4 linked regions of the Homo sapiens genome follow. The protein of the gene in region 2 purifies or fractionates together with the protein of the main gene of each other region. This does not show direct contact. Each region holds a gene or a part of one and is shown on either strand. Other genes may lie near its edges. The genes, in order: PLEKHA6, MYBPHL, DPCD and GFPT2.

Region 1 (5,253 bases), about 95 Mb from region 2:
GAGAGGGACCTTCATAGGGACAACGCCGGGAAGGCTGGTGCTAGTCCTCGACCCATGGCAGTCTCATGACCCTGCCATGATGAGAAAAGTGTGGGGTAGTGCAGTTACTCCCTGGGCTGGAGGCATAGAAGTGGCAGGGGAGGGACACCTCAGGGATGGCACGGGCCCTGGTGATGTCTTCCAGCAAAGGCTGTAGAGCTAGTAAAGGAGGGGTCCTGGAAAACCTTCTCCCTCTTCCCACATCAGGCCCCTGCAGGTGGCCAGGGAGCCTTTGCAACATCACCACTTCCACTTCCTCACATTTGGAAGTGAATTTGAGTTTTCAAAGTGATTTTCATCCATTTTCTCATTTGTCTTTCTTGAAAGTTCCATAAGATGGTGGTTAATATACCCATTTTCCAGATGAGGGAACTGAGACTCAAGAATTTAATGACTTGTCCAAATCTTCATGCAGCTAGCAAGGAGCATGTTGCTAGGGGCAGGAGTTGAGGATGACATGCCACCTTCTCTCATTGGTCTCAGTAACGAGGTGAGGCTCGGGATGAGGAGGGGGACGTGGCGTGGCCCCAGTTCCCTGGCAGCAGCAGGGTCTGAGGCTTGGCTGCCTGCCTGACCCTGTCGTGCCTGTCTTCAAGAATAAATAAGTGATCATGCAGTTACACAGCTCTGCTCCTTAAAGGACATTCTGCTATTGCATTTTCATTTACATTTCTCAGCTACTACCCCCTTTTTACAAATCCCAACCTGGCTTGATCTGGTAGGGGATGGAGCAGGCACCAGCTGGCATCATCTCTTGAGAGGAGGAGGCAGCCCTTGTCGGTGGATGCAGTGATGCCCGGTGGTACTCTGTGGTCTCACATTCCACCTCCTCCCCAAGCCCTTGCCACTGGCTCTGGCTCAGATGGAGCCTGAAGATAAAGGCTCAGCCCCCCAGAAAGTGACGAGTTCTCCAATATGCATCCCCCTACCCCAGCCTCTGATGCAGGCCCTCCCCCAGAGCCTACATCTGGTCACAACTCTCCCGGGTTCACAAAGGACATCATCCTGGGGATGTGACAAAATCCAAAATAGAGTCGAATCTTAAAAATGACCTCCCCCGTACTAGCCCTTAGAAATGGGAACAGGTGTCCAGAATTCAGCTTCAGCCATGAAAGCCAAGCCGATGCAAGATCAGGAATTAGAGGAAGCTTGCTTTCTCATCTCTCCTTCTCGCTTTTTCTTGAGCCATCCCTCCCTCGGACAACATGCAGAAGCCCCGCTGAGCCTGCCAGTCTCCCGGGCGCACCTCTTCTCTTCCACTACCCACCCCACAAAATTTACCAGGCTTCTTGACTCTTGGTCCCCACAGTAAGATTCCAAATTGAGAAGCACTGGTAAAGCCCTTCACACAGAGTGTCAATACCTGATAACCACAAAACACCTGCCAAGAGAAATAAACCAAAGGGATGGAGGCAGAATGAGAACTGGGGTGGTCTCATACCTCCCACCAAATTATACAACTTCTTGTAAAGCAGCAATATAGCGCATTGTGTAGTAATCAAGAAAGGCTGGGAATTCATTCTCTTCTCCTGCTGTCCTGTCCTTTGTATGAGTCAAACCAAGGGAAGGTGCCAGGGCCTGAAGCATCTGATACTGCCATTATACAGAACCTTGGGGCAAACCCTGATCTGGGGTCACCTGAACTGAAATGATGATGCTGGTGTTGGTAGCATACCCTCGCTTCCCCAGCTCCTGGGGATGGAGGCCAAAAAGTGCAGGCTGAGGCACAGGGGAGGAAGGAGCACATGTTTTACACCCAGCCTACCTCCCAGCCCCCATTCCCCTTTCCTGCCAACCCCACAAGCTGCCAACCCCACAACCCCACAAGCACCACAAGGGCAGACACCGAGTAGGAGACACACACCACATATACAAACCATTCATTTTATTTCCTGTATTGGGTTTATACAAACTTGCAAGATACAAATGCAGAACTCACTGGGATTCTTCAGTACCTAAATCTAAAAAGAATGCTGCTGAAAGGGGGAAGCAAACTCTCACCTGTTTCAGTCAGGCCATCCCTCCTCCTGGGGAGGGGGCTCATTGGCTAGAAAGATGCTAAGGGGATGCTACAGCTGTTTGTCCCCTGACAGAGATTCCATCTATCTAACCTTCACCCTTCTTCTAAGGCCACTTTTATGCTAAATAAAGACACTGAGATAATAAATTTCCTTGTACAGTTTATTGTCTAATACTAGCAAATCAAATTGGCCCCAATATGTGCATAAATAGATATACGTGTGTGTGTGTGTGTGTGTGTATATATATATATATATATAATGTGTGTGTATATCATATTTTTTCTTAGTTTTAAGAGCTGCCAGGTAGAGGGTGCCTAAAGGGGAAAGGAATTGGTTCCCTCTTGCCGTAGCCAGCCCTGCCCAAGAACATGCCTCTCCCAAAGGCCGGAGAGCAAGTGTGCCACTTGTGCCCTTAGAAAATCTTCAAAGTGACAGTAGCAGTATTTGACTGCAGCCTCTTGGTTATTGATCATGGAGGTAATGTGCTCATTGAGAAGGCCCTGGATGAATAATCAGAGCTTCCCCAGGTGGGTCACTTAGCTCTGGACCCCCATCTGGGCTCTGTTCATTCAGAGCAGGATGTTCTAGGCTGGCGACAGGGTGTCAGTAAATGCCCCAGGTGGGAGGCCAGGCTTCAAACGCTGGCCAGGAGCTCTGCTCTAGATTCCCAAGCCCTTGATTTCAGACCTAGACAAAGACTTCCATCCTGCCCAAATCCTTGCAAGGCCAGAGACCCTTTCCCCACTTTGATGGTTGACAAAGGCTAAGCAGCTTGGAAGGCTGAGCTGGCTTAGTTCGGTGCCCCAGTGGCAGCCTGCTGGGGTAAAGTCCCGGGGGTTTCTTGGGTGAGGTTGAGATGCCACCTTGTCTGTAGGACCCTCCTTGGCCCAGAGGCTGATTTCACAGTCTGGATACCAGACTGAGGTACCATGCCTTTGGTACAGCCCCCAGAGAGAAAGGTTGCAGAGGGGGGATGTCATAAATGTGACCCAGGCCAGAGAGGGATCAAGTGAAAAGGAGTGTGACAAGTCCAAGGAACTTGTATGTGTCTGTGCTACAGGGCCAGGGATGGCCCAGAGGATCCCAAGCCGCCTCCTCTGGGCTTCGCACCGTCTCGTACACTGACATCCTTAGTGCTGTTTGGCATAGGCTGCTGTTACGCTGTCTGCTCTTTCCAGCAGGCTGATGAAGAGGGGTAGTCTAGCAGCCCATCTGGGGTGCATGCCTGCATGGGTCTCCTTTGTGCATACAACTGCAAACAGTTCCTTCCAGAGGATTCACGCCTGACAACCGCAGAGGGTCATCAGGAGCAGACAGTGTAATAAAATCCTTAGGCCAGGACTTCCGAGGGAATGCCCTGCCCCCGGCAAGATGCTTTCTGGGTGAGCTCTGGGGACCAGCCCTTTCGTGACTGGGGAATAGGATGGAAGGAAGCCACTGTGGCAGAGGGACAGGCACAGGGTTGGGACCTAAAGGCAGTTACCCCATCTCCTCACCTCATTTGCCAATTCCATTCAGACATTGCACAATTTGAAAATAGATTTGCTTTTTTTAAACAAAAGCATAAAATAGATGTCTTAAAATAAGTCTTTCCTCTCCCCTTCTTTGGATCAAAAAGGCAAGGGGTATGGTCTTGATATGCTAGGAATGATGTGGAAAATAAGGGAGAGAAAAACAGGCCTGGGCAGGAACTGTAGGAAAAGATCAGACATCCAAACAAATATATTACATATATAGATCTATAATATGTATAATCTCCATAAAACATATATTAAGGCATGTAAAGCAACATAAAGAGCCAGCTTTATGAAATAAGAGATGAGAGAGAGGTGGCAGAGGCGCAGACATTATTTCTTGGTATTTTACATGTATTTCTAAAAAATATTACTTTAAAAAAAAAAAAAGAGACGGACAAAGTGGCAGGCATGGAAGGCCCTGAAAAATCTGTTTCCTGTGGAGGGAGAAAGGCTTGGGAGAAAGAGAGAGAGAGGAAATGACCTGGGAGCCAATCCCACCTGCCAGTCTGCAGGGGAGAAAGGGCAGGTTTGGGGTGCTTGAACTGTGAAGATGGGAAATACAGCCAAGGGTCACGTTTAAAAAACCTGCTAGAAGTGAAGATCGGTGGAATCCTCCCAGGCTGTAATCCCTCAGAAACATGAGAATATCCTAAGCACCTACAACAGTGCCTGGTACATAAAAGGTGCTCGATAAATATTTGTTGAGTAAATTGTCATCTTTACTTGCATATGAACCAGTAACTGTCCCAGCCATGAAGGAGTGCAGAGGAATTAGTAGGTGTTCTTGGGACCGCTGGAAGTCAGGCTGAAGCCTCTGAGCGGCAACTCTAGCAGAGAGAAGGCCGAGGGGCCACGGTGTCTTCAGTTTCCCTCCTTCCTCCTCTCTGGCTACATTCGTCTCCAGGTGGGTGGAGCTGAGGAGGAATGCGTTTGCTTTTCTCTGTCTTCCCCGCTGCCCTCCCGGGGCAGGTGGATCATGAGAGCGCCTAGCCTCAGCCAGTCCTCGTCTGGGATGCCTGGGATAGGGGGATAGGCCTCCCAGATTAAGGCCTCATCCCCCCTCCTCAAGGCGTACTCTCAGCTGGCCCACTGCACATTCCAGGGGGAACAGGGCAAGAAATATCATGGAACTGGGTAGGTAAGGCCCCAAGGCTGACCACACCCTACATAAGACAAGTCCTTCTCTCTGCCCCTTACCCCAGGATGGCGAGGCAGACACCAGGCACAGACCTACTAACAGCCATCTCCCAGGCAGTCGCTACTCAACCCCCTTCACCCAGATCCCCACACCAAGCATCTCCACTGAGGCTGCATGTGCTCCACTGGTGGGTCCTCCTAGGGATGAGGTGGGAGGAGCAGAGGAGACAGTCTGGCACTGCACTGGGCACTAACCTAAGGCTCCACCGGGGGAAACCAATCTGATATCCCCTTTCCATCTCCCTCCTTCCTGCTTGACTTGCCAATGTGTCCTGCTGCTTCCCCCTCCTTCCACTCTGAGGATCTCTCTCTCTCTCTCTCTCTCTCTCTCTTTCTGTCTCTCTCTCTCTGCTACCCTTCCCAACCTGCCCTCAGACACTGCACAGACCTGCTGTTCTCTAGCCACAGCCAGCACTGTTCCCTCTGGGAGCCAATGGCCTCTCCCCATCTCTCATCACCTTGTCTTTGGCTCAAGCAGG
Region 2 (6,659 bases):
CAGAATCAGACTCCAGCAACCAGAGAACAAGCCATTTAAAGAGCCAGGACTGTACATTTATAGCATGAAATGTATTCGGTCATCTATGAGGAAAACGTCTCACAAAAATGTGAGCCATAAATTACCTAATTTTCTTGTTCTTCATTTTCTTGCTCTTAGTGCTCATACAGATCTTCCTCCCGTGGGTGTGTATACGACCAGCTTTCTTGTTCTTCCTCCTAGAAAGTCTAGGCACCCACCCCACATACCTTCACAGGTTTCAGTTGCTACACTCTTCCTTCTGGACACAGCAACAGATAATTACTCCTTGAATTCTGTGTTCTTTTGAGCAGGTTTGACCCCTGGCGGCACTGAGAAGTTCAGCTTTGTAACTTCCCATCTGCTCCTCTTACATTTCTCTTGCTGTTCTTACGGGCCCTTTCTTGTCCCTTTCATTTAAGGACCTTTGGAGAGTTGCAGCCTTCCTCTCTTGCAAAGCATTTAAGAGAGGTTCCTGCCCACCCGTCTGGAACCGTTAGCCATCCTACCCTGCTAGCCTGGGGCAATATTCCATGTAATACTCCAGCACCTTGGTCTGAAGATGACAGGGCAAAGCCCTTGTTCCTGAGGCCCATCTGATGGGCGAGTTCCTACCCCAGGACATTATCTAAGATCGTTGTTTTATTTGAAGGAATTCTATCTAACATGGTATTCCAAGATTTCCTGCGCCAGAGTCACTAGGTTGGTTTTTTTAGGTGCAGATTTCTGGATAGCACCCCAGACCTATTGAATTAGACTTTCTGATGGGCAAACCTTAGGAACCTGCATCTTAAAGTTGATTCTTTACACCTTCGCTCCAACAAAGGGCTAAGACTCAGCCTGGGCCAATTTCCTCACCAAAAGATGGGTTACGTGTTGTGTAAAAGGGGGTGTATTTGGGGTCTCCTGGCTAGGAGACTGTCCACACTTACGGGGCCTTGGCTGGGTCAAGCAGGAAAAATAGTTCAGAAAGACCTTCAAGCTAGTTCTGATATGGCAAAAACCCAGTCTTCTGCCAACCAAATCAACCCCATAGGCCATCCAAGGCCCCAATAAACAGATTGTCCTGGGCCTTAGCTCCTATACCAGTTACAAAGAGGCTGAGCTTCTGTCACCCCAAGATAACACAGGCTCCTGGGATCTTACCAATTACCCCAAAATTGAAGGCAAAAATGAGTAAGAAGTCAGTCCATTTGTTCAACTGCACCCATTTTTTTTCCATGAAAAAAATACAGGGGTGAGTAGGGGGCTGTGGGAACCCTATACTTTCCACTCAGCTTTGCCGTGACTCTCAAACTGCTCTAAAATTAAAGCATTTTAAAATGCAGAGGGATGCTGGCTTCTGGAGATAAGAAGGTAGGAGTATGATAGGTGGCAGTGTCCATGGCATGTACAACACGTATAGAAAGATGGTTTGCTAAGTCTGGAAATCATGTAGGACCTGTAGTATGTGACTAGCACCTGCTGTGAGCTGGCCACTTTCCTATAGATTGTATCATTTTATCCTCAACACAATCATGGCATCATCCCTTGTTTCATAGACTGGGACTTGAGACTCCGAGTCGGCCATTTGCCCAGAGTCCCAGCTGGTGAGTGAGTGGTACAGCCAGAAGTCACACGCAGGTCTCTGAGCTCGCCTCCCTCCACCACTGCTGCCTCTCCCTTTATTTGTACTTCATCTAATAGGCAAGGCAGCCATTGACAGCTCTCAAAGGGGGAAGTGCTGGCCTGACCTAAAAATAGCTTACATTTATCAAGCACTTAGTCGGCTACACTCTGCTAAGCACTTTACAGAGATTACCTCTTTAATCCTCACAACGACCCTATGGTTATAATTATCTCCATTTTACAGATGAGGAAACAGACTGAAGAGAGACTGTGAGGTGTTGTGAGTCACACAGCTAGTTGGTGACAGAGCCCCAAGTGGCACCTGGGCAGCCAGTGCGAGTGCAGTCTCCACCTACCACTGCGCTGTGCCCGCTGCCCCCGGGGAGCGGGGGAGGATGGGACAGGCCCTGTAAAGGTCGAGTTGATAAGACTTTACAATTCATTGAATGTGGGAGCAGAGGGAGAAAGAGCAGTTCAGGCGTTGCTGTGAGTCAGCTAATCCTGGGCCCCTTCTTTGGGACCTGAATGCCCCACGGGATGAACTGGAGGTCAGGAGCAGAGATGTCACTCAACCCTCCCTACAGAAATTAGAGGTCCCTTTTGGATGGTGTGTTCAAGCTCTCCCTCCCTGGTGCTGTGGGGGGTGTCATCTCTCTCCCGAGATAACAGGGACACCTCAGTCCTCCTGGGGCTATTCTGGGCTGCTGTCTGATCCTCCTCTCTCCCCCAACCCCTACTTCAGCCTTTCTGCTGGGCGTAGCTGAGTGGGGAGGGCCAGCCCAGTTACGTAACCCTGTGGCTGGGACCCGGGAGGCCAGCCTGGGAGCAGGTGCTCAGCCCCTCCCTCATCACCAGCAGTGAAAATCTAGAGCTGGAGCTCAGCCTCTGGGAAGGCCCAGCATGGAGGCAGCCACAGCTCCGGAGGTGGCCGCAGGATCCAAGCTGAAGGTGAAAGAAGCCAGCCCAGCGGATGCTGAACCACCCCAGGCTTCACCTGGACAGGGGGCTGGCAGCCCCACTCCCCAGCTCCTGCCCCCTATAGAAGGTGACCCATGGCAGGTGGGGAGGGTGGGGAGGCCGGGTGGTGGGAGTTGGGGAAGACATCGCCACCTTCCTGAACGGCGCCTCAGGTTTTCTGCAGAGCTAAAGACTCTATAGGATTGGTGATTAGGCTGGAGATCATTCGTGAGAGCCCCCATCCCCTGTCCTTGATGGAGTCTAACTTGCTGCTCAAATGTCCCTGCTAAGTTTTTGTGTTTTAGCTGAGAAGTCAGTGATGGTGTTGGTGGCACTTTACAGTGACTAAAAATGATCTGTTTATATTTTTACCTTTTAAAAAATTGTCATAGGGACTGGGAAGACCTGATATACTAATGGCCAGTCAGGAAGGGACTGAGGGGTAAGAGATAGTGACTGTCTGCTGAAGGAACAGGGAAATAAAATGCTATGGCAATGGGGAGGCTAAGAGTGGGGCAGCACAGTGACACTCGGCCTCCTGCTGGGCAGTACCACGGGGTCAGGACCTCCTCCAATCCCCCACTGCTCCCATAGGAGATCCTGACCCCTCAGAGTCTGAGCTCCACGGAAGTGGAGCTCTCCTGGGAGAAGCATTCAATTTCCCCTTCACGATGGTCTCTGTGTGCCTCTCAGCAAAGAGGCGTTCCCAAGTGAGGAATTCCAACCCCGAGCTTCCTGCCGCCCATCCCTGAATGCCCTGGCTGAGGCCTCTGTAGCTAACCACTTCGTGGCGCTCACCTGAAAGTCTTAAGAGGATGAAAAGACCACAATCAAGAAACACGTGGACTCCTAGGGCAGGAAGAGGCAGGGGAAAAGATATACTAGACTTGGAGGCAAAGCTCTAGGCTCAATTCCTAGTGCCGCCTCTAACAGCCCTGTGACCTTGGACAAGTCACTGGACTGCTCAGTTTCCATTTTCACTCTGTAAAATGGTGATTAATAACATCTACCTATCAGGGTAGTTGAAAGGATTGCTGAGATGATCCAGGGTGCCTTGGAAGAGGCCAAACTAAGATGTAAATAAATGATCAAATATTTCCAAGTGAGAGGTGAAGGCTGCGTTCTACCTCCATAGGGTTGTGCAGCAGACTCTGTCTGCCTCTTATCCTCATGGGAGAGGCCAGGTTTCCAGAAACTATTTGAATGTCAAGGGCAGAGAGCTGGCCAAGTTTGTCCCGTTGAAGATGAAGGGAGCAAAAGTTAGTGTAAATATATTAAGCTGGGGTGATGGAGGCAGAAAACCAGTTTCTTCCCTTAAAAGGCCCAGAGAATAAGTGACAGGCAGCAGGAGAATGAGAGCCAGGACTGCTGACGCCTCAGCTCTCTCTACTGGTCTTCCCAAAAGCACAAGGGAGAGTGCTCATCTCCCCCATGCTTCTCCCCTCTGGCTGCAGCCAGCTCCTGACAGCCCCCAGTCACGGGCCCGCAAATGCAGCCCAAAGCCTCTCGTGTGCAGCAGCTCTGTACACTGCAGGCCTCAGGGCCACTAGCACCCAGTGGCTCAACCCAGTGGTATCCCAGAAGTCACTGGCAATAAGAACACCTTTGAATACTTTGCAAAATATATGTGCATCTGTTAACTACTTGGAACAAAGAAGTCATGAGTTCAAATCTTAGCTCTGTTCTGTGGCCCTAGGCAAGTCAATCCACTCCCATTTTCTCATCTGTAAATTGAGGAGTTGAACCAAATCAGGGTCTTAACCTTTTGGTGGATATGGACCCCTAGGAAAATCTAATGCCAGCTGTGGACTCTTGCCCCTGGAAAAATACACAAAAAAGTTCAGAGAGCCAACAGAGCCCCAAACCCCCACCAAAGATCCTTCAGGGTGCAATGCATGGGCCTGGACTAGATGACCCCTAAGCCCCCTGAGAGCTCCAAAGCCTTTCTTCCTCCTAACTCCTCTTCCTTACAGAGAGCTCTGGGACTGAGTATCACAGGAAGCATGTGAAAACATGGGAACTAGAGCAGGCATCAGAAATAGAAATTAATTTGCAAGATCAAAACCAACTGCAAATGGCCAACAATGAGCTTTTAGTTTGGCAAGCCTGCTACATGGCTAAATAAGCAGGAGTAGGTGGCCAGCATTGGTAAACAGTTCTATGTCTGTCCTCAGCACTACACTGAGTACTGTGTCCTGGAGACAAAGCTTGGCAGGGGCCAGAGAAGAGCTTCCAAAACAGGGAGAGGCTGGGGAACAAGCTGCATCCCTCCCATGGACAATGTGACACTCGGCCTCCTGCTGGGCAGTACCACGGGGTCAGGACCTCCTCCAATCCCCCACTGCTCCCATAGGAGATCCTGACCCCTCAGAGTCTGAGCTCCACGGAAGTGGAGCTCTCCTGGAAGAAGCATTCAATTTCCCCTTCACGATGGTCTCTGTGTGCCTCTCAGCAAAGAGGCGTTCCCTGGGACCCTGAGGTGGAGGAGAAAGAGCCCATCTGCTGACTTCAGCATCATCGCTCCAACTGACTCTGTGTTCTCTTTCAATCTGAACTGTTCTGTGTCTTCCAGGCATGGGAAACTGAATCTCATGCCTAGGAGTGACCTTTCTTCCCTCCTTCCTTCCGTCCTTCCTTTCCTCCTCCTTCCTTCCACAAATATTTAGGTTGTGCCTATGATGTGCCAGGCGCTCTTCTAGGTGCCAGAATTACAGAAATGAACAAAATAGGTAAAAATAACTGCCCTCATGGAAGTTAGATTCTAGTGGAGGGAGCTAGACAATAAATAAACAAGTAAAGTATCTAATATGTCAGATGGTGAGAAATGCTGTGCCAAAACTAATGCAGGGACGGGGATAGAACGTGCTTCGGGTAGGAAGCATGCAGGCTTCCTGCTTCAAATGGAATATTCAGTGAGGGTCTCACTAATAAGGTGACATTTGAGCAGCAACTTAAAGGATGTGAGAAAGCAATGCATGCAGATATTTGGGGGAATATTTTCCACACAGAGAGAACAACTGCAAGGACCCTGAGGCAGGAGTGTGCTTTATGGGTTGGGGCCATTGTGGCTGTAGCACAGGGAGGGAGACAGTGGCAGTATTTCAGTCTGAGAGGTAGCACGGCCGCTGTGAAGACTTTGGTTTGTCTACGAGACAGCCAGCCAGCCAGTGCAGGGACTGGGAGTAAGGACTGACAGGACCAAGTGTAGATTTTAAGGATTTTTCCAGCTGGCCATGTTAAGAATAGACTGTAGGTGGGCCTTAGACACTAGCAAGATCGACAACTGGGAATGAGAATGAGGGAGAAGGTAGGGAGGTTTTAGAAGAGAAAGGTGTGCGATAGTCACCCAGGACAATGGGAGACCGAGTGAACTTGGGAAGTCTAGTAGAATTGCCAGAGTTCACTTGGAGGTGGTGGTCACTATTAATGGCCCTCAAGTTAAACTCCATATAATTTTGTATTTTCCCCCAGTCCTGTTACTCTGTGCAGATACAGCCACTGAGTGGGTGGGAAGTTTATTTAACAAGGGTTAGGTATTGCCAAGAGAGTGCAATGAAGTCAAAGAGGACTCAGGGATTTGAGTGAGTGCAAGAGAGAGAGTATAATAATGACCGTGCAATCTAAGTTGGGTGGTGAAGAAAGTGCTAACATGAAAGGGGTGCTAGGTAGTGAGAGGGTGGTAGGACAATGGATCACAGATCTCAGTGGTGCCAAAGAATTGCTGGTGTTGGAGCACTGGAGGAAGTGAGCTAAAGGGATAAAGATTATATTAGTTAGGTATACTAGTGAATGAAACAGGTCTCAGGAATGACATACATCTATTTCTCACTAGCGTAAGAACTAAAAACTATTCTGCAGATAGTTCTCCTCCATGTGGTAATCCAAGGACCCAGGCCTCTTTCATCTTGGGGCTCTGCCATTCCTTAGGGCCCGTGATCATCTGTGTACAGCTAGCAGAAGAGGAAAATAGAAATCTAACTTCTTCAAAGCCTGGGACCAGATGTGATTCTCACCATTGCCACTTACGTCTCATTGGCAAAAACTGGTCGCGTAGCCATCCAGCAAAAGGTGGCCGG
Region 3 (4,885 bases), on a different chromosome or scaffold from region 2:
ACCAGCCAGACCTCACCCTTGACCAACCTCTCGGGGCTGGGGGTTCATTCCTGGGGCACTGTGGCCTGGTTTTGCTTTGAAACCAAGAAAGAGCAAAGGGAACCCAGCAGTTCTGAGTGAGTTCTGAGCCAGCCCTACCTCAGGCTGGCTGTTGAGACATGCTACAATTTTCATTTTTGTAAAAATAAAGCTTGATTGTTCACAGATCTGGTTCCTCACTGGCTGAGTAGTCCTAGCAGGCTCCAGGAGAAGGGAACAGCAGACCCAAGCTCAGGGTTGTATGTGCTGCTGAAACGACAAGACCAGCCTCATGGCTCTGTGTCCCAAAGAACAAAGGTTTCTTTTTTTCAGGAAGAGTTCCCATTGATGACCTATCCCTTACCCTTTGGGGTATGGAGGGTCACCTGTGGGTTTGGAGAGGGGACTGTGGAAAGGGTACAGGCTGCTGGAAGCTCAGTTGTTGCCTGTGGTGACCCCTACCCCAACACACACCCTTGGCAAAATTATGACCCTGATTCTGGCTTTTTACCCACAATGCCTTAACATCCTGTGTTCTACTTCCAAGGTTTCTGTTTTGTTTTTTGTTTTTGTTTTTTTGTTTTGTTTTGTTTTGAGACGGAGTCTTGCTCTGTTGCCCAAGCTAGAGTGCAGTGGCATGATCTTGGCTCACTGCAACCTCCGCCTCCCAGGTTGAAGCGATTCTCCTGCCTCAGCCTCCCGAGTAGCTGGAATTACAGGCATGCGCCACCATGGCCGGCTAATTTTTGTGTTTTTAGTAGAGACAGGGTTTCACCATGTTGGCCAGGCTGGTCTTGAACTATTGACCTCAGGTGAGCCGCCCGTCTCGTCCTCCCAAAGTGCTGGGATTAAGACGTGAGCCACTGCGCCTGGCCGGTTTCTGCATTTTTAAAACTTTTCCCTTGCCCACACATCTTCAGGAGTTTCCTCTGAGCCACTTCTGCAAGCTACGGTAGCACAGGGTCCCTCCAGCCTGGTCTTCCTCTGAGTTTGTGTAAACAGGTTGCAGGGAAAGGCCAGCCCTGCCCTGCTAGGGCCATGTGCTCCCACCCTATTCTCCCTTTTTGTGGAAAGCTTTATGTTGTAGGTCTCCGGGATAGAGAAAGGAATGTCATCACACCCTCCCGAGGGAGGCCAGTGGGGTCTGGGGCCAGGCAGCATACAGAGGGGAACAAGAGGGCAGTCCCTGTGCAGTAAGTAACTCAGAATGACTTTACTCAGGAAATATGACCATGACTCACTGGCTAGGAGTGCCCCATGCCCAGTTCTTAGAGACCCTTGATAGCTCCTAGAAGACAGGAGGCTGCCGTGGTCAAGAAGGGCCAAGCCTTGAAGTCTCACGGCACCCCCTGTGGTGGAGGTATAAGGCTCAGGGGCCAACTACTGGGTCTTGCAGTCCCCATCGTTGCTGTGGGCTGTCTTCACCTTCTTTAGTTCCTTCTGTAGCTCAGACTCGGCCACCACAACCTCCTTTGGCTTCTGGTACTGTGGATGCAGCCAGGAATAAGAAAATAATTCAGTCACTGTCCCATCTCCTTCCACACACACTTGGGGCCCCTTCTCCTTCTGATCCCCTTATTTGCACGAGAAAATTGAGGCCTGTAGGATTGAATGATTTGCTCAAGGTCATGTGCCTGAGTAGGAGCAGACCTTGGACCAGAAGAACCCAAGTTCAGCAATTTCCACCGCTTCCCTTTCACCCTCTACCCTCTTCTAGCTGTGAATTATATGGTCAGGCTCCTTCCTGAGCCCCCTCCCTGCTCTCCCCCATGCTGAATTAGAGATGCCTATTCTCCCACAAGCATACCCTAGGGCTTGGGGCTAGAACTGAGGACTCTTATGGGATGGGAAGTGGGCAGGGAAAGAGGAAGACTCTCCCTGATGCAGTGTCCAAGAAGTCTGGGTGAATCTTACAGAGATGATCAGGGTGCAGTTGGCGTGGGCAAAGCTCAGCAAGGCGTCATCCAGAGGTAGCTGGTGTCTATCTAGATCAGGAATGGAGAACTTCTTGTAGTACCTGTGGGGACACCGAGAGGCCATTGGGGCACTCGGCAAGGTGACCCAACAGCCAGGCGTCAGGCCCTCTGCTGCCTAGCTTCTACCTAGTTCTTCCACACCTTCCACACACGCAGAGAGGGAGAAGGGAAACCAGTTAGAACACCAGTATTTCAGAGCTCAGTGGCCCTGGAAAGCATAGAATGCAAGCCTTATGTCCAGTCCAGTGGCAGAAGAGCAGAACCTAGTTATAATTCTGTGATTAGACCAGGGGTTGTAGTGACTCACATCTCAGAGCTGGGTCTCCCAAAGACAGGCAGAAGAAGCCTGGAACACACAAATAGCTCAAGCAGCTTGGGACTCCTCTACCCCCAAAGCCTCATGGAGACACCAGAAAAATGGGACGTGTTCTAACAAAGGACAGAGTAAGGACATTCAGATCTGTCTCCCAAAGCTGGGGCCCTACTGTTACCATTTACATGGGAGGTCCACTGAAGGCCTCAACTACCTCTTCCTCTTTTGGGGCCTTTCAAGGCCTTGTTAGCCTGGCCTTGTAGGCCAGAGGGAAAAGTATATCTACTAGGAGAAATCTCTTTGAGAGGACGAACCATGTTACTCATCACGGAAGCTGGACCTCTGGACTACTTGGCTGGCCCCAAGTCCCTACTCCTCCATTTTTACATATCACACATGGTCCTTATCATCTGCAGGTGCCGGTTCAGCGATTAATGATGCCTTTTAATTAAAAAAAAAAATAGAACAGATGGCAACACCCAGTCTGTAATGTGTATAACTAGACTTTGCAGGAAATTTGACCCCCCTTACCTAAAAGGGAACTCGGGCTCAGAGAGATGAAATATCTTGCCTTGTTTCACGGCCAGTTGTCGGTAGGGATGGGAGTCAAGATTAGAGTAAGATTCCTTGTCCTTGGTCTGATCCTTACTACACCAAAGCACAATGAATGGCCTCCTCATCTCTAACAGTACACCAATTTGGCATTTTCCTTGGTGGAAATGTGGCTTAGGCTCTGGCCAGGGGCTGCTAGACCTGTCACTTGGGCAAGGCATCACTTTCTGCTGCAGAGGTTGTATGGGCTGTGAAGGGAAACACCTCAGGCAGGTACAAACAAACTCAAGTGAGAGGCCTGGGGAGGATGGGGCTTTTAGTACTTCAGAGGGGCCTGGTCCTTGTGGTGACAGCTACCCTGAGTCCACTTCAAAAGCCCCTATGCCCTGGGGACTCAGAGAGTTGACATCAATGCAGCACTTCTGCCCCCGTCCTCCCTGCCCAAATCCCTCCGTTCAACAGAGGCTCTCGGGGCCCCTCTCCTCCCAGGTTCCCCACTCCCCACCAAGGTACTGGGACCCATGGCAGGAAAAGAATGTTTACTTAAAGGCTGACAGTTCAAAAGGAGTGGGGGCTGGGGGATCCTAATGGCATTGCAAGTTGCTTTATTTTCCAAAGCTCTGCCCCAGGGAAAGGCGATCCATCTGCCTGCAAACCGGGGATGGAATGCCTGCCTCATCCTCTTCCTAGCCAGCTCAGGCTGAGGGCTCTTCCTGGGGCCTTTGGTCTGGCCAGCAAAGGTGGCAGACACTGATAATAGGGGAGAGTCAAAGGTTAAACAGCAGAGATTAGATGAACACAAAGACTTGTTAGGAAGTGTTAACATCTTCCCTGCAAATATACACAAAAAGCAGAACCAGGAGGGAAGCAGCCCAGCAGAACCATTCCCCCAGGCTGGGGCAGTGGGACCGGAAAATGAATCCCAGGGCTTGGCCACAACAGCAAGGACAGGATCAGAGGGAACTTTAGGTGCATAGCTTGCACCTGCTTTCCTTGAACTACTCCTACCACCAGGCAAGAGGAATGGAGGCAGAGCAGGTGGAGGCTCAGCTTGGTTTTGAGTCTCTTGTAATAGATTTAGTTTATTGGTCGAGGTTAACCAACTTCTTAGAAGCTCCCGATAGGCTCAAGGGAGTAGGGAGCATCTGCCTTTTCTCCTCCTGGGGAAGCCCACCCCCTTCTCACACCCATTCCCCCAGACATAGGGTTTTTCCATGATAGGTACTGTACTTGACTTTCTCACCAGCACCTGGACAAGAGAGAGACCCACTGTGCTTCTGGAAGGGTCATAACGTTCAGCCTCAGGCAGCTGTAGGTAGGCAGCAAACATTTATTGGGCATCAACTGTGTCCCAGACCTTGAGCTGTGAGCTGGGGATTTAAGGATGAAGAAGAGGGCGGGCCTGGTGACTCATGCCTGTAATCCCAGCACTTTGGGAGGCTGAGGTGGGAGGATCACTTGAGGCCAGGAGTTCAAGACCAGCCTGGGCAACATAGCGAGACCCTGTCTCTACAAAAAATTAAAAGAAAAGGATGAAGAAGAAACAAGGCCTCCAGATGCAGTGGCTCACTTCTGTAATCCCAGCATTTTGGGAGGCCGAGGTAGGCAGATCACTTGAGGCCAGGAGTTCAAGACCAGCCTGGCCAACATGGTGAAACCCTGTCTCTACTAAAAGCACAAAACTTAGCCAGGCGTGGTAGCAGCACCTGTAGTCCTAGCTACTTGGGAGGCTGAGGCAGGAGAGTCACTTGAACCCAGGGGGCGGAGGTTGCAGTGAGCCAAGATCGTGCCACTGCACTCCAGCCTGGGCAACAGAGCCAGACTCAATCTCAAAAAAAGGAACAAGGCCATATCCCTGCTGATCAGACCTTGTTTTGTTTCTGCTAAAAGATGAACCCTTACAGCAGGATAGTTCCCTGGCTTCCTGCAGATGCCCCGCTCTCCCCCATTCCCACCTCCCTTCAATGTTCTATTTCAGCCATACAATGAAAGATGACATTTTAAGAGCTTATTCTGTGCCAGGTTC
Region 4 (5,964 bases), on a different chromosome or scaffold from region 2:
CCCCAGAAAACGGAAGGAGAGCCCCATCCACCCTGCTCAGCAGAGCAGCTTGGTGGTAGCACAGGAGCCAGGGCTACTCATGCATCCTAGTGATCAGGGTCTTGAGGGAGTGAGGTTTTTGCGAGGGCCTCTTCCTTGGGTCTGGCTCATGCCCTGAACCATAGGGCATTTCGTGACTGAGGCACACACCCTATGTCCAGGAGGAGGACAGCAGACCCCATGGTGCTGAGGACCTAGAATGTACATCTGGCCAGAGCCCAGGTCAAGTGCAGAAGCTGGTCCCTGGGGCAGTCGTGCTGGCCGAGAAAACACTGCGCCCAGACCATGTGCCCTGAGATGTTGCCACTTTAGCCACAGCCTCCTGCCCTTCCCAGTGATAAAATGAACCTCATTGGAAAATCCCCCACTTCAGTGTAGATGATGATTCTCATTGTGTCCCCAAAGCAGGGAGGCTCCCAGGAGGCCCACCCACACCCAAACTTGGACACTCCAGCCCTGACTCAGGATGAGTAATTGAAAAGAAAACAACAGGACAATAAGCAAAGATTTATAAAATTTCTTTGACACTCAGCAGTGATAGCTGAAGAGCATGCTTTTAAGGAAGTCTGAACGCCCAGCAACTATACCACACAAGGAAATTACACAAAGATTCTGCAGAGACAACATGGATTCCAGAAAACAAATTAATGATAGGATCATAGACTGAGATGAAAGAAAGTGTAGCAGAATTAAGAGAATAATGTAAAGAAACAATATCACCGGCCAGGCATGGTGGCTCACGCCTGTAATCCCAGCACTTTGGGAGGCCGAGGCGGGCGGACCATGAGGTCGGGAGATCGAGACCATCCTGGCTAACACGGTGAAACCCCATCTCTACTAAAAATACAAAAAATTAGCCAGGCATGGTGGCGGGTGCCTGTGGTCCCAGCTACTCGGGAGGCGGAGGCAGGAGAATGGCGTGAACCTGGGAGGCGGAGCTTGCAGTGAGCCGAGCTCGCGCCACTGCACTCCAGCCTGGGCGACAGAGTGAGACTCCATCTCAGAAAAAAAAAAAGAAAGAAAAAGAAACAATATCACCATAGATATAAAAAAATGGAGAAGGGGATGGACGTGGAGCCAGTTAATATGGATCCAACATATGGGTAACTGGTGTGCACAAGAAGCGATCAGAGCACAGAGCAGTAAAAAATAAATAAATAAATACATAAAAAATAAAGCTGAGCTGTGGTCAGCACATCTGTTGAAACTGGGCTTTTCTTATTTAAGCCCTCCCATTTTTGGGTGTGACCTCACAAAAACAAACACTACAATTTTTTTAAATAGAGGAAATCATGGTGAGAATAAAGAAAAAGAATAATGGAAAAGATTTCAAAAGATGCTGTGGGAGAAATCTTTCCCGAACTGAAGGAAAACTTGAGTTGGATATCCAAAGAAGGGATCAAAAATAGTCAATAGACCAGGCACAGTGGCTCAAGCCTATAATCCCAGCACTTTGGGAGGCCAAGGTGGGTGGATCGCCTGAGGTCAGGAGTTCGAGACCAGCCTGGCTAACATGGTGAAACCCTGTCTCTACTAAAAAAATACAAAAATTAGCCGGGTGTGGTGGCGAGCACCTGCAATTCCAGCTACTTGGGAGGCTGAGGCAGGAGAATCGCTTGAACCCGGGAGGCAGCAGTCGTGGTGAGCCAAGGTCACGCCACTGCACTCCAGCCTGGGCAACAGAGTGAGATTCTGTCTCAAAATAATAATGGTAATAATAAAAACAAATAAGACTTCACAGTGATGCTTTGAAAAAAATAGTCAATATTTATGAAGCGTATCCCACATCTAGACACCTCCTGGTGGAATTATTGAACCTCAAGGGTAATAGGGAATCTTTCTGTCCTCTAGGGGGAGAGGGAAACGGAGCTACTTGCCCAGAAAAATTCTCAGGCTGGCCTTGGATCTTTCCCTCAAGGCACTCATATGCGGGCTATTCATTGAGAAAATGCAGTGGGGTGGAGGCAGACATCCCTCACCGCATCCCCCGCATCCCCCTGCTCCCCCCGCCCCCCCGCCACCTCCCCGCCAGGATCAGCGGGGTGCTACCTGTGCAGGAAGCCGCCCGCGTGAGCTGGGTTGTGCGGCAGGAACTGGGGAGGTGGGAAAAGCTGCAGCTGGCAGATCCTGCTGTGCAGGAATGTGGCTGAGCCTGGGGATGCCAGAACTTCTGGGATTTTTCCCCCAAGGAAACCAGGATTTTAAAGTGAACACTCAGAATTTTAAAAACTCAAATATTTTTACAACACAGTGTGGGTCAAACACAGCACGGTGCTGGACTGTTCTTTGCGACCTCTTTGTGCCTAAAGCCAGTTGAGAGTGCCTGGAATCACTTCTGGAACGAAGGGCTCATCATCCCCGTGGGACATGAACCCCAAAGCCTGTTTGATACTATAATAGCGCACAGGGGAGAGCTCTCTGCACGGTCAGGCTGGTGGCTGCTGGTCACTGAAAGAGGGATGTGTATTTCCTCCGGATCCCATTGTAGTAGCCGCTGCCCTAGACATCCCTGGTGCTAATCCCTGGTTCCACTGTAGTTGCTGCCGTAAACATCTGTGCTAATCACTGTAAACAAAGTGTGCTTAACAGAAGTCTTGAGGCCTGGAGTTTGCAGAGAGTTCTCAAGCCTTGAAATCATCTCTCTTCACATCTGACATGAACCTCCTTCTCAATAGCATTTCTCTCTTAACTTTTCTTTCAGAATTTGTTGTCATCCACAATGGGATCATCACAAATTACAAAGATCTGAGGAAATTTCTGGTAAGATGCTTCCCCTAGGTGATGTCTCAGTCCGGTGGGATTGGTCTCCCCAGAAACTTTCCAGCCAGCTCATTTCCTTGCGGAAACCAGTGTGGGAACTGAGTGAGACCCACACTCAGCCACGTCACCGTGTTGAGAAGAAACCTCTGCCTTGGCTGAGCCAGGCCCTGCAGATCTCGTTTGAGGAGATAACAGGGCATTAGTGTTTATCTCAAGGGCCACTGCAGATTCCCAGAATCAAAATAACAGGAGCTTCGTTTTATTAAACTGTCTGCATTATATAACACAGCGACTCGTATACCGGCGGAGTTGGGACGGAAAGTCAGACAGTGACTGTCTGAAGTTTGAAAGGCTCTGTGGTGTTAGTTGGGATGTGGGTGGGTTTGACTCAACGTATTTTATCATTTTGACTGCTGTTATTTTGCAATGTCCAGATTAGTGGCAAGGGTGAGCTTCTGAGGTGGGATGATCTCAGGGCCTCCGGGAGTGACTCAGAGGTATTTGGCTGTGATGCTGGCAAACATTTTTCCCCCCTTCCCGGTTTTCCCTGTTCTTGACTTAAGTCACTCCAAGGGCAGATCACCAGGGAGGAGAGGGAGTTGGCCAGGCAGGCATTGTGCAATGACCAATCTCTCACACTGTGCCGACTGCATATTCCAGGAAAGCAAAGGCTACGAGTTTGAGTCAGAAACAGATACAGAGACCATCGCCAAGCTGATTAAATATGTGTTCGACAACAGAGAAACTGAGGACATTACGTTTTCAACGTTGGTCGAGAGAGTCATTCAGCAGTTGGTGAGTTACAAATCCCATCTGTCTAACTCATTCCTTCATTCTTTCATTAAAAACATTTTTTTCAAGCAGCAAGTGCCAAGGAATCCTTCATTTTTTATAAGCCCTTGTTAGACAAACTTGCACAGAGTCCTGGGGATAAAAGACAGCCCATCTGCAGAGCCTGGCCTTAAGATGTTACACTCTTGTAGAACTGGAAGACGTTCTGTGGTTTGGGTAGTCAACATCAAATAGAAAGTGCCCTGCTTCATCGTGACACTTCTGAAATTGTGACTGGCATTAGAGTCCGTGGCTTTTTATGATGCACACGTGAGCTTGGTGGTGGTGTGCAGAGAGAGTTGTGGTACCAAGCGAGGATGTGTTTCTAGGTTTTTCTTTTTTGAGACAGAGTCTCACTCTGTTGCACAGGCTGGAGTGCAGTGGTGTGATCTTGGCTCACTGCAACCTCCACCTCCCAGGTTCAGGCAGTCCTCCTGCCTCAGCCTCCTGAGTTAGCTGAGACTACAGGCACGCACCACCACACCTGGCTAATTTTTGTACTTTTAGTAGAGACAGGGTTTCACTATGTTGACCAGGCTGGTCTCGAACTCCTGACTTTAAGTGATCCACCTGCCTTGGCCTCCCAAAATGCTGGGATTTACAGGCGTGAGCCACTGTGCCTGGCCTGTTTTTGTGATAGGTGATATCACAGCATGTCTGTATGTGGAACGGAATGGCCCAAAAGAGGGAGAGAGGGAGAGAGATTGGGGACATCCCAGAGGACAGGGCCCAGGGAGAAGAAGTCCCTGAGAAGGGAGCACACACTGGGCGTATTGTCCAAGGGGAGGCCCCTACACTGAGGAGGAGGTGGAGCAGACACAGGCCCATGCAGGGTGCGGGAGGACGAGAGGGGTCCGGGCCTCTCAGAGCCCATCCTGTCAGACAGCAGTGCCACCCAGTAGCTCCCCCAGGGCTGTGGCAGCCTGGACACTGGCCCAGAGTCCAGAACATCTGGCAGGCACCATCCTGTAGTGTAAAATACATCATTCTTGAGCAGGTGTTTTCAGAGTCTGATTTAAAAAGTAAGTCTACTGTTGAAGCCTTTTTGTCCTCTAACTCCCGTTTTTGGAGGTCCATCATTTAGAGGACGTGTTTATAAAAAACAGCCTATCCCACATTTAATGTGCTGGATAAGGTACAGTGAGCCAATTAGGTATTACAGCATGCTGTTTCTTCTTTTCCATTTTTATTTTGAAATTTCAGAAATACCTCTCTCATAATGACACTTTTAAACTTAAGACTTTTCCTACCTGGGACAGTACCGGGCTCTTTTTGGCAGAGAACGTGCAGTGTTTTTCCATTCAGTCCTATTTTATTGTTGACAAAAGCACCAGGGTCTGCCTGAAGCCCCCTGGTTTGGGGCAGTTTGAAAGCCCCAATGAGGCCTGGGGACGGTGACTCAGGTTCCTGGCCCTGTAGCTGAGTTGGCAACCTGGACCCGACACGCTGACCACCCGGGGCCTGGGGCTGCCCGTGGCTTCCACACTTGGAGGATTTCTTGTGGAAATTCAGATTTGCAGCTGGTTATATATAACTGAGCTCTGCTAGGGTTGCGGTAAGTTAGTACAGGATGGTCAGGACGTGGGGGAAGAATTTACACCAAGAATTTAAGTCAAAAAACCATCTGGCCTCTTGTGTTAGGAGAGCTGGATTCTAGTTCTGGCTTTGCACAAACCAACCAGCTGAGGCCCAGAGGGCAGGTGGCAGTCGTATCCATGGAAAGGATAATAGCAGTAACGGTCATGACAACCTGTGCTTCTCTTGGGTCTCCGGATGCCAGGCTCAGTGCATTAGCTTATCATCGTCACGGAAGCCCCGCCAGGTGGCGCTGTTCTCACTTCCTTCACCGATGAGGAGAACGAGGCGCCAAGAAGGCTAAAGGGAGAGCCCAGTGCAGGGGTGGAGCCAGGATTTGAACCCAGGCCCTACCGTGTGTTGAGCTAAAGTGCACTTCACAGGGGCTTGCTGAGTAGGTGCTGTCCCTGAGCAGGGCAGGGAAGCCTGGTCCCAGCTATCATTTCCTGTGACTCTCACTGCCCCGTCTACCCAGCTGGCACCCCTGCCGGGCTCCCTGTGGGCCTGGGCAAGCCGCACATCGCTCACCGTGGAATTCACATGTTCTGGTTTGTGGTACTTCCCGTGGCACCGTCTGTTTTGCTTTCCCTCGTGATGTCACCCCGGATGCGCTGTTCTGCACTCAGCTCCCCGAGGGACCCCAGGACCTCCCGCCATCAGGAGGGGCCCAGGGAGACGCACCTGGGCTGTGGCCAGGCTGCAGCAGCGGCTGCTGGAACGCGTTGACCCTCACTGTTTGTGTGTTTTCAGGAAGGTGCA

What was found.
Region 1: the proteins of MYBPHL (region 2) and PLEKHA6 purify together in Homo sapiens (affinity purification with mass spectrometry; 2 studies listed by BioGRID and IntAct, with this or other methods). This does not show direct contact.
Region 3: the proteins of MYBPHL (region 2) and DPCD purify together in Homo sapiens (affinity purification with mass spectrometry; one large-scale study listed by BioGRID and IntAct). This does not show direct contact.
Region 4: the proteins of MYBPHL (region 2) and GFPT2 purify together in Homo sapiens (affinity purification with mass spectrometry, with the first as the bait; one large-scale study listed by BioGRID). This does not show direct contact.

What each region holds. Positions count from the first base shown.
Region 1 is NC_000001.11:204,216,944-204,222,196, forward strand, and holds the end of PLEKHA6 (pleckstrin homology domain-containing family A member 6), read right to left. Parts: 3' UTR 1,910-5,253; downstream 1-1,909.
Region 2 is NC_000001.11:109,302,859-109,309,517, reverse strand, and holds the start of MYBPHL (myosin-binding protein H-like), read left to right. Parts: upstream 1-2,506; 5' UTR 2,507-2,526; coding exon 2,527-2,671; intron 2,672-6,659. UniProt on the Homo sapiens protein: Myosin-binding protein which plays a role in cardiac function. Seems to regulate conduction in the atria and ventricular conduction systems.
Region 3 is NC_000010.11:101,605,985-101,610,869, reverse strand, and holds the end of DPCD (protein DPCD), read right to left. Parts: intron 2,036-4,885; coding exon 1,933-2,035; intron 1,504-1,932; coding exon 1,399-1,503; 3' UTR 1,208-1,398; downstream 1-1,207. UniProt on the Homo sapiens protein: May play a role in the formation or function of ciliated cells.
Region 4 is NC_000005.10:180,328,330-180,334,293, reverse strand, and holds part of GFPT2 (glutamine--fructose-6-phosphate aminotransferase [isomerizing] 2), read left to right. Parts: intron 1-2,740; coding exon 2,741-2,799; intron 2,800-3,459; coding exon 3,460-3,594; intron 3,595-5,955; coding exon 5,956-5,964. UniProt on the Homo sapiens protein: Controls the flux of glucose into the hexosamine pathway. Most likely involved in regulating the availability of precursors for N- and O-linked glycosylation of proteins.